Regions from separate parts of the Homo sapiens genome. Here region 1 is linked to region 2. Evidence: fine-mapped expression QTL. A gene starts in region 2. The other region holds a variant in brackets. All regions are shown on one strand. Distances are from middle to middle.

Region 1 (5,366 bases), 38 kb before region 2:
GTAGCTGGGACTACAGGCGCCTGCCACCACTCCCAGGTAATTTTTTGTATTTTTAGTAGAGACGGGGTTTCACCATGTTAGCCAGGATGGTCTCGATCTCCTGACCTTGTGATCCACCCACCTCGGCCTCCCAAAGTGCTGGGATTACAGGCGTGAGCCACCGTACCCAGCCAGGTATTTCTTAATAGTAGTCTACTCTCTGGTAGATTTGTATTATAGTTCAGTTCTTAACTTTCAAATTTCTTCTAGTTCAAAAGTGACTTAATAGAAAATATCAATAGAAGACTTAATTAGAAGTTTCTGGTGTTACAGATTGTAGTCTACAGGACTACAGAAATGTTTCATGGTCAGGCACAGTGGCTCACACCTGTAATCCCAGCACTCTGGGAGGCCAAGGCAGGTGGATCACTTGAGGTCAGGAGTTCGTGACCAGCCTGGCCAACATGGTGAAACCCCGTCTCTACTAAAAATACGAAAATTAACCATGTGTGGTGGCACGCGCCTGTAGTCCCAGCTACCAGGGAGACTGAGGCAGGAGAATTACTTGAACCCAGGAGGCAGAGTTTGCAGTGAGCTGAGATCGCGCCACTGCAGTCCAGCCTGGACAACAGAGCAAGACTCATCTAAAAAAAAAAAAAGTTGTTTCATTACCTTTACTACTTCTAAATTCTGAAAATGCACTACCCAGCTCCTTCTGAACTTTAGGATATGTGACTGTCTGAGGTGCAGAGTCAGTCTCCTCAAGGGTGTTAAGACTAAGATCTGCTCTCTGCTTCCATCCTGTGCTACACGTATCATACACCAGGCACATGCATATATGCCTGTGTCTTCTGATTCTCTTTTCCTAAAATTTTTCGTTTCACTCTTTGGAAATAATATTTAAGACTTCTTTAATTTCTTTGGCAATATTTCCTTTCTGCATTCCCCCTGGAGACACCTGCCTTGTTGGGGCCAACTCTTTCATATCCTGACCTGTCTCGTTGCTTCTCTTAGCATCAGTCATTGAAATACTTTGCTTCTGAAGGTGTCGTCTTTCTCTTTAGTCAAAGAGAGTCTCACCGCCAAACCTTAAAAGACAGGGCCCATTGTTTTAATAATATTTGGACTTTCCTTTCCTATCTTATAAATGAATTAAAAGACTGGAAAATTATTGGGTTTAACTTCTTTAGTTAAGGCACTAAATGTGACAGCTTTCCCTTAAAATTGATGCTTGAGTCTTCAGTGAGATACAATTAGCTTTCCCTGCACAGATGACTTCTTCGGCAAATTGTTCCTTTTCCCTCTCTTCACCCACCCATATATCTTATTTCTTCACTAATTTAAAATATGAGTGAGCTGTAGGATGCCTGGACCTATGTTAACTTCTGAAACAAACATGTTAAGTTCCAATTTTAGCCTTAAATATTTTCGACATTTAGCCTTAAATGTTTTCTTCTTTATATGAGTGTTCATACGGAATTTCAACATGAGAATAATGATGGCTGATTTTTTAAAAACTGTGTGAAGGTTTAAACCAGAGACTCCACATATCTTAAGCCCTTACTACCTTCAAAATCCTACTGTAAACAGGATATTTTAAAGGCTTACTAAATGCAAGGCTTTTTCTCGTCATAGGCAATATAATTAATTTTAATTATTTTTTCTTTTGAAAATTAGTTTTATTAATTGGTTCTTACTAGGCCAATCTTTGTTTTATCAGCTTTCCTGTGGGAACAATAAAGTTAATGACACAGGGAGCATAGGTTAGGGCCAGTTGTTACTTTGGCACAAACACCTGTGATTCGTTTTCTGAGACTAGTTTTAAACTGGTCGTGCTGAAGGCCAGCCCACTTTCTGCTGTAATTATTCTGCCTTCTGATGTTATTCTCGAAAAATGGCCAGATTCCAGGCGTGACTAATGGTTGGTGTAAACTAGGCATGAGAAGGTTTGATTACACCTTCAATTGTATGATTCTATCATGATGGTATAGGTTTGCAGTGAGTCTTAAACCACATAGCACTGACACGTAGTGAGTGCTCAAACAAATGTTAGCTTTCATTATTAATTATAGACTGTTCAGACAAGGTTATGCAGAATTTTCTTAGTTTGCACTGACTAAACCTAATCTTTCAAGTTAATAATGTTGCTAAACCACCTACATAGCAGAGACACTCTGCTCCTACGATTTCATATGCTTTAGATACCCGGACGACACTGTTTAGACTACTTCATTTAAAGACCCCAGAGAAGTGACGTGCTGGTGTTACAGTAATGCAAACAGAATCTTTTCTTTTTTTTTTTTCTTTTTTTCTTTTTTTTTCTGCGATGGAGTCTCGCTCTTTTACCCAGGCTAGAGTGCAATGGCACGATCTCGGGTCACTGCAACCTCCATCTCCCGGGTTCATGCAGTTCTTCTGCCTCAGCCTCCCAGTAGCTGGGATTACAGGCACACACCACCACACCTGGCTGATTTTTGTATTTTTAATAGAAATGGGGTTTCACTAGGCCAGGCTGGTCTCAAATTCCTGACTTCAAGTGATCCACCTGCCTTGGCCTCCCAAAGTGCTGTGATTACAGGCATGAGCCACTGCACCAGGCCCAGAATCTTTCAAATAAATTTTAGATATTGGATATTACTGTAAAGTTTCAAAATTGTGAAGTGGCTTATTATTTTATCCACTTTACCCTGCATCAAGTCACATAGAGATTGAGCAGAGAAGGATTGAGGACACTTAGCGTATGTATCTTTGGACTACATATAAAAGTTGCTTTTTTTAGGCTGGGCGCGGTGGCTCCCACCTGTAATCCCAGCATTTTAGGAGGCTGAGGCAGGTGGATCATGAGGTCAGGAGATCAAGACCATCCTGACCAACATGGTGAAACCCTGTCTAAAATTAATTAGCTGGGCGTGGTGGCATGCGCCTGTAGTCCCAGCTACTTGGGAAGCTGAGGCAGGAGAATCACTTGAACCCAGGAGGCAGAGGTTGCAGTGAGCCGAGATAGCGCCACTGCACTCCAGCCTGGCAACAGAGCAAGACTCTGTCTCAAAAACAAAAAAAAAGGGCTGAGCACAGTGGCTTACGCCTGTAATCCCAGCACTTTGCGAAGCTGAGGTGGGCGGATCACCTGAGGTCAGGAGTTTGAGACCAGCCTGACCAACATGGAGAAACCCCATCTCTACTAAAAATA[C/CAAAAAAAAAAAAAAA]AAAAAAAAAAAAAAAAATTAGCCAGGCATGGTGGCGCATGCCTATAATCCCAGCTACTTGGGAGGCCGAGGCAGGAGAATCGCTTGAACCCAGGAGGCAGAGGTTGCGGTGAGCCAAGATTGCACCATTGCACTCCAGCCTGGGCAACAAGAGCAAAACCCCATCTCAAAGAAAAAAAAAAAAGGCTGCTTTTTTTTTTTTTTTTTTTTTTTTAAGATGGATGGAGTCTTGCAGTGTGGCCCAGGCTGCAGTACAGTGGCTAGTCACAGACATGATCATAGTGTACTGTAGCCTTGAACTCCTGGGCTCAAATGATCCTCCTGTGTTGGCTTCTTGAGTAGCTGGGACTACAGGCATGGACCACCACACCTGGCTAATTTTTTATTTTTTGTAGAGATGAAGTCTTCCCATGTTACCCAGGCTGGTCTCAAATTCCTGGCCTCAAGGGATCCTCCAGTCTCAGCCTTCCAAAACACTAGGTTTACAGGCATGAGCCACCATGCCTGTCCTTGGACTATATTTTTAATTCTGCTTTTGCCCAGTCACTTGAGTATGCTTTTAATCAGCAGCCAATACATTTCTTATCAGAATGTTCTGATAGGGGCTAGAGGTCATAGCAACAAATTCAAAGTGCCTATCCTTTAGTAACCTTAAGTGGATTAATGTTTTAGAAAAGATAGTCAAGACTGGGCACAGTGGCTCACAAGCCCTGTCATCCCAGCACTTCGGGAGGCCTAGACAGGAAGATCACTTGAGGCCAAGAGTTCAAGGTCAGCCTGGACAAAGTAGCCTGAGACCCCCGTCTCTATAAAAATATATATATTTTTTAATTTTAAAAGATAGTCATGAATACAAAACAGTTGGGAAGATTAATAGGAACTCTCTTCATGCAACTTGAATTTTAAGAAAAACATTGCTATTTCTATCAATTAAGGTTTAAATGTAGACCAGGCATGATGGCTCACGCCACCATGTAATCCCAGCACTTTGGGAGGCCATGACAGGAGGATTGCTTGAACCCAGGAGTTCAAGACCAGCCTGGGCAACATGGTAAAATTCCATCTCTACCAAAAATACAAAAAAATTAGCTGGGTGCCAGGCACAGTGCCTCACACCTATAATCCCAGCACTTTGGGAGGCCGAGGCAAGTGCATCACCTGGGGTCGGGAGTTCAAGACCAGCCTGGCCAACATGGTGAAACCCCATCTCTACTAAAAATACAAAAATTAGCTAGGTGTGGTGGTACATGCCGGTAGTCCCAGCTATTTGGGAGGCTGAGGCAGGAGGATGGTTTGAGCCTGGGAGATGGAGGTTGTAGTGAGCCGAGATCACACCATTGTATTCCAGCCTGGACGGTAGAGCCAGACCCAGTCTCAAAAAAATAAAAATAAAAAAATTAATGTAATACAGCTACTATGAACCCACAAAAACTTTAAAAAAATTTTTTAATTATTAAAAAAATGTAATGCTGCTACTGTTTTGCTTATGTAGATTGTGGGCTAGAATAGGAAATAAAACTATCATTTTTAACACTTTTCTGGGGGGAAATATTATTCGAATTTCATAACAATTAGCTTGATGACCTTTTAGAATATATATGTAGACCATTGTGATGTTGGGGCTGCCTGTTGTAAATAGGATTTTTGTGAGCTTGATTGTACAAAATTGAAATTTGCAAACATCTTACTGAGTTTACTGTTTCCTTCTGGGTGTTAGGCCTACTGTAGAAATCAGAAAAATCGGAAATATTTTGTTGCTTGCTTTGTGAAACTCATGATGTGACATGGATTAAATTTCTAAAAAGTTTATTTAATTGCCTTTAAAATTAGTATGTCAAAAAGTTTATTTATTTATTTATTTATTTATTTTAATTTGAAACAGTCTCTCTCTGTCACCCAGACTGGAGTTTAGTGGCATGATCTCAGCTCACTGCAGCTACCACCCCCGGGTTTAAACGATTCTTATACCTCAGCCTCCTGAGTAGCTAGGATTACAGGGGCCCGCCACCACACCCAACTAATTTTTGTATTTTTAGTAGTGATGGGTTTTTGCCATGTTGGCCAGGCTGGTCTGGAACTCCTGGCCTCAAGCAATCCACCCGCCTCAGCCTCCCAAAGTGCTGGGATTACAGGCGTGGGCCACCACGCCCAGCCTCAAGTTAATAATTTATAATCCCAGCACTTTGGGAGGCCAAGA
Region 2 (5,366 bases):
TCTCACAGAAGGCGAGGCCCACAGCAGGCCCAGGACTCAAGACTCCTGGGGCCTGGCTGCTGCCCTTCCCCCTCCCCCCTGGGAAAGGAGAGGCACCACTCAGACGCAGGCAGGCCAAAACCCTAGTTTATTTCAGCATCAGCAGTATCTTAGCCATCAAAAAAATAAACTCTACCAAGGGTGACGGAAGTCTCTACAGCAAGGCTAAGGGCTCGCCAGACGGCGAACATCAGGGGTGCATGGTGGGCACTGCCCAGGCAATAAGTTAGGAAGCAGCAGGGCTGGTGTCGGGTGTGGGCCGGGCTTCATTTCTGGGCAGGCATGAGGTCGTCGATGGCCTGGCCCTGCTCCAGCCGCTGCTCCATCTCGATGAGCAGCTTCACTCCGTCCACCACCATCTGCACCAGCTCCACCTCTGAGAAGCCCAGGCGGTCAGCGTTGGAGACGTCGAAGACCCCGCCCACCGCAGCCGTGTCCACACCGCCTGGGGAGACAGCAAGTCAGGGCGGAGGAAACAGGGCTGCCCAAAGGCCACGGGAAGCCGCAGCACCTGCCCTGCTCACCTGTGCCTCGCTTCTGAAGTCGCAGCCGCTTAAGCACCTCCGAGAACTTCTCATGCTTGCCCAGGTTGGGCAGCTTGATATGCACACCTGCCCGCAGCCCGGTGCCCAGGTTGGATGGGCAGGTGAGGATGTAGCCCAGGTGAGGGTTCCACATGAACTCATAGTCCTTAGACTTGAAGAGAGTTTCAATCTGCAGACGGAGAAGAGGGTATGAGGGAGAAGGCCTGCCTGAAACCCCTACAGGCCCTGAGACTCCCCAGTGCCGGAAATCCCCCGGGGGGACTGATGCTGGGGCACCCACATCCCTGCTGGGGCCCTGGGGTCTGGGCCTGCCCCGTCCCTGGCACCTGGGTGAGGCCGGTGCAGAAGCGGGTGAACACCTCCTTCATGTTGCCCCCCTTCTGCATGGAGATGACCCGCAGGTGGTCCTCCTCGTTGACCCACACCAGGAAGGTCTTATTGTCATTGTGCCTGCGGGAGGGCTGGTCTCAGGGCATACCCAGAAAAAAGCCCCAGGCCGCCCCCAGACCAAAGGAACTTCCCAAGTCCCTGAGGTGCTGCTCCCTGCCATGCCCAGGAGTGGAGGCTGCTGCCAAGACTCCACCCGCCAACACGGGGCGGGCGGGGGAACCGGGACGCCTCACAGCAGGAGAACCCCAGCTGCCATCATGCGCTGTGGCCTGAGGTGGGGCGGGGCCAGGGACCGCCAGGACAGCCCGACCCGCCCCCCACAGTGGGGGTAGGAGCCCTGCCCCTGGAGAAGCTTTGGCGTCACCAGCCCCTGGTAGAATCCCAGCGGCGGAGGAGTGAGAAAAGAAAACAAAGAGCTCCAGCTCCCAGGGCCGTCGGGGAGAGGCGCCAGAGAGCCCCGCCCCCACCTCACGTCTCGGGGTGGGGAGGTGTTGCTGAGTCCTGAGCCCCCACGGGCCGGGGCCCAGTCCCTTAACGCACCTGCTCGGCCAAGGTCACCGGCGCAGGAGGAGGCGCGGCACGGAACCCAGACCCGGAGCGCGGCCGGCCCCTCCCTCCTCCTCCTCCTCCTCCTCGCCGCGAGGGGCCCCACCCCCGCGAGGGGGGCGAGAGGGAAAGCGGAGGTAGCGGGGAGGGAGGACGCCGCGAGAGGGCGCAGAGGGACACGCACCAGATACCGCGGGCGTCGGGCCAGTCGCGGGCCATGCCCGAGGCCAGCAGCAGGGGCGACACGGGCTTGTCGAAGAGGAAGTGGTCGTCGATGAGCTGCTGCTGCTCCGCCTCCGTCATGCTCTTGAGCGCGTAGTATCGGCCCGCCAGGTCGCCGTCCAGGCTGGACAGGGCTGCGAGGGGTGCGCTCAGGACGCTCGGCTCCCGCGCCCGCCCCTCCAGCCCGCAGCGCGGACCCGCCCGCCCCCGTGCCCCACCTCGGGGGACGTCAGAGGGCCCCACCCGCCCGGATCTGCGGGCGTCCAGTCCTCACGGCCCGGGCGACGGTCCCAGGCGGTGACCCCGCGCCAGGACCCGCCCTCCCTGGGCCCCAGGCCGCTGTGGGCGCGGGGCTGGGCCTCCGTCCCTCGGTCCCTCCGGGAAACTGAACCCGGGCGCGCGCAGATAAGAGCGCGACGGCGGCTGCCGCTCCCGGGCGACGTAAACAAAAGCGGGCGGGGACCGCGCCGGGAGGGGGACGCGGCCGCCGCCGCCCCTCGGCCCGCCCGGCCCCTACCTTCCACCGCGAGCTTCTCGATGGCGCGGCGCTCCCCGCGGCTGCAGTGCGGGGGGAGGCAGAAGCCACGGATGCTGCGGCCCGTGCGCACCCGCGAGCTCAGCACGTAGTTGGGGTCCAGGTCGTCGCCGCCCTGGGAGGCGAGACGGGAGTGAGCGCCCGAAGACCCCGGCCCCGCCCGCCCGGCCCGCCCGCAGCCCCGCACCTGCAGGTTGTCGGGGTTGAGGTCGGTCTTGTGCTCATCGCTGGGCTTGTAGCCGCCGTGCCGGTCCTCGATGATGGGGTCGAAGAGATCCTTGAACACTTCGTAGGACTCCTCGTCGCCCGCCACGCAGCCCACGGTCATGATGTACGGGTGGCCTGGGGGAGGGGGCGCGGGACGGGGACAGTGACGTCACTGCCGGGCCCGAGCGCGCTGCTGAGGACCCTGCGGCTGCGCGGGGGGAGGGGGGGCCGGGACCCCGGCCCCGAGGGGTCGCGTACCCGGGTTGTCCACGCCTGTCTGGATGACGTCGTCCAGCGTGAAGCCGCTCGGCGTGCTCTTGGCGCGCAGCTCCGCGTACAGCTCGGGGGTCAGCACCTTGGCCATGTGGTTGTTGTGGGCGCTCAGGTCGGGGAACTCGTCCTCGGCCGGGAAGCGCAGCTTCAGTGCGTTGTGGCTGTTGGAGAAGGGCATGGCGGCGGCGGGCTGCGGGGAGACGCGGGGTCAGAGGGGACCGGCACGCCGGGGTTCCCGGGCTCCCGCGTACCACTCAGGCCCCCGCCGCCGGGCCCCCCGGCGCCCCCCGGGACGCGGCCAAGGTCAGCGGGGTCCGCAGCGCGCGCGGGGAGCGCCATCATCGCCGGGGACCCCCGGCCGGTCCGGCGCGCGCTCCAGGCGACGCGCCCCCTTTGCACGCAGCGCCCCTAGCCCGGGCGCGGACGCCCCCGGCCCCCGGGCCCACTCACCGGGCGGCCGGGCGGGGGCGGGGGCGCTCCGTCCGTCGGCAGCTCCCGGAGCGACGCAGGCGAACAGCGGCCGCTCCGCGCTCCCGCGGCTCTTAAGGGGCACAACGCGGGCCGCCCATTGGCGGCTATTTATAGCCCATTCATTCCATTGGCCCGCGCCGCGGGGTGGTGCCGCCGCTTTGTCCGCCGCCCGCAGCCCCCAACACCCTGGCCGCCCACCCGAGCTGTCCCCTCGCTGGGACCCCGCGCAGCCTGCCCAGTCCCCCGCCCAAGACCTCGAGGCCGAAACCTCAGGTCCTTGGATATCTGGATCCCCTCGCACGCCCTTGCCTCTGGGCGGGAAACTGAGGCGGAGAGCCTCCGGGCACTCGAGGACGCTTGGGTTCATCCGCATCCTCGAGCCTGCCCGCCTAGTCCAGCCAGCCCCCGCGGCGGCGGCGAGGGGCCGGGCGAAAGCTTTCGGGGCTTCCGCAGCAGGTACGGCCCCCGCCCCACCCCCGGCCAGTGCGAGCTGGCCCGGAGCCGCCGACCTTCCTCAAGGTGCCCGCAGGCGTTTCCTGGGCGATCCTGGTGCAAAGCGAAGGCGCGCGGGAAGCGCAGTCTGGCTGCGGCCCAGCCCGGGGGCACCCGCGGTGCCCTGACCTTGGACAAGTCCTGGGTCTCGGGGGGCTGCGAGCCAGAAACCACGGGGACGCTGTGGCCTTAAGAGGCCGCTGGCAAGTGCAGCCTCGGAGTTTCCAGACCCCAACCCTGGGCCCTCTTCGCAGGGGACAAGTTTACCCGACCCCCAAAGGCAGTCCCCGGAGACTTCAGGCAAAGATGGGAGGAAACGCTAATAAACAATAAGCATAAGTGCGATTAAAAAAAAAAACTGATCTCACGAATAACCAGAATCATGCAAATTAAGCAGTGACTCCACCTGCCCCTACCCCCAACACTCCCAGATCGACCCCAGCCATTGCTGGCTTTGAGCTGGAATGCGGGAAGACAGGCGTCCACACGCTGCCTGCAACTTAAATTGCTGCATGCTTTTTGCAAGATAATTTGGCAGAATCTATTAACGTTAACAATGTTCGAACTCCGTGACCCAGCAATCTCCCCTTCTAGGAATGCAGCCCTTAGAAAGGATGTCTCAGTTCTCTCCACTAATGGACCAAGAGATCTGTGGAGGGAAAAACAAACATAACTGGATACAACCCGATGCCCCATCAGGCGGGAGTGGCCAAGGGTAGGGAGGCATCTGCTTGCTGTGGAATATTATGCAGCTGTTAAGAGGGGGAAGTGGAGGATGTGGGGTTAATATCCATCAGGGACCCTCATCTGTTGCTCTGTGAATAAAGCAAAGAAGGGGGGAACTCTTATCTGTGGGTATATTTGATACAAATCCCTCCAGCAGTGGCACAATGAGCACCTAACAGGTGCCAGCCGCTGGGGATACAGCAGGCAGCGAGGTACACAGCGCCTGCTGCTGGAAGAAGACTGGCCATGAGCCAGCAGCCCAACAAACCAGATGACATCAGATCGGTGCTGCTGGGGCCAGGGGGACACAGAGCAGTGGCGTTCCAGGTATAAGGGACCCCGAATAGGTGCCTCAGAGCAGAAGGCACCAGAGCCAAGGCCCAAAGGCAGGGGAAGCCTGTTCGCCTCTGCCTATGTGAGCATCGGTGTGGGGGCCTTTTCTCCTGTCTCATCCCCATGGTCACTGCAGAGGAGACACATGCCTCTTTGCTCCTTGGCATGCTTCGTCCTGTTCCAAGCCAGCATTTTTTAGACTTAATAAAACCAACCCATGTAAAAAGGCAAACGGCCCCTCTGGGCTGGCCAGACAGCAGGTGTCCCTTAAGCCTGGAATTCCTGCACTCTGTGCCCCGTGCAGCCTCTTCGCCCAGTTTTAGAAATTTCTGCAGCTGCCCACCTGCTACCCCACAAAACCTGAAGGGCTTAAGTTTCTGTTTCTGGAAGGGATAGCTGCAGCCCCTGGAGGCAGACTTGGGGGGAGGGAGAGACTTGGGGGCCACACTCAGGACTTCCTCTGTCTTCAGCAACTGCAGCTTCTCAGAAGGCCAACCCTCCCCTCTCTCACCCTCCTGGCTGAGAGCCTAACCTGCTTCCCAGGTCCCCCATGGGAAAGGACCCCCTTTCCCCTTTCCTGAAGGGGG

What was found. PIP is the estimated chance that this variant, and not a neighbour inherited with it, causes the effect.
Region 1: its variant is the best candidate, but not a certain one, in a credible set for the expression of CKB in whole blood (INTERVAL, PIP 0.63).

The regions. Positions count from the first base shown.
Region 1 is chr14:103,481,894-103,487,259 of GRCh38, forward strand. All of the region lies in intron 14 of MARK3 (microtubule affinity regulating kinase 3), which reads left to right. Among named protein-coding and RNA genes, the nearest start is that of CKB, 38 kb to the right of the region's middle. The variant C/CAAAAAAAAAAAAAAA (reference allele first, on the strand shown) is at 3,170.
Region 2 is chr14:103,519,559-103,524,924 of GRCh38, forward strand. It overlaps CKB (creatine kinase B), which reads right to left and starts at 3,272. Exons shown (of 8, transcript NM_001823.5): 1 at 3,208-3,272; 2 at 2,743-2,947; 3 at 2,465-2,619; 4 at 2,260-2,392; 5 at 1,705-1,876; 6 at 911-1,034; 7 at 564-753; 8 at 109-484. The coding sequence starts at 2,935. The coding sequence ends at 306. RefSeq lists enhancers at 850-1,737, 3,514-4,399 and silencers at 1,511-1,880, 1,891-1,960, 2,101-2,150.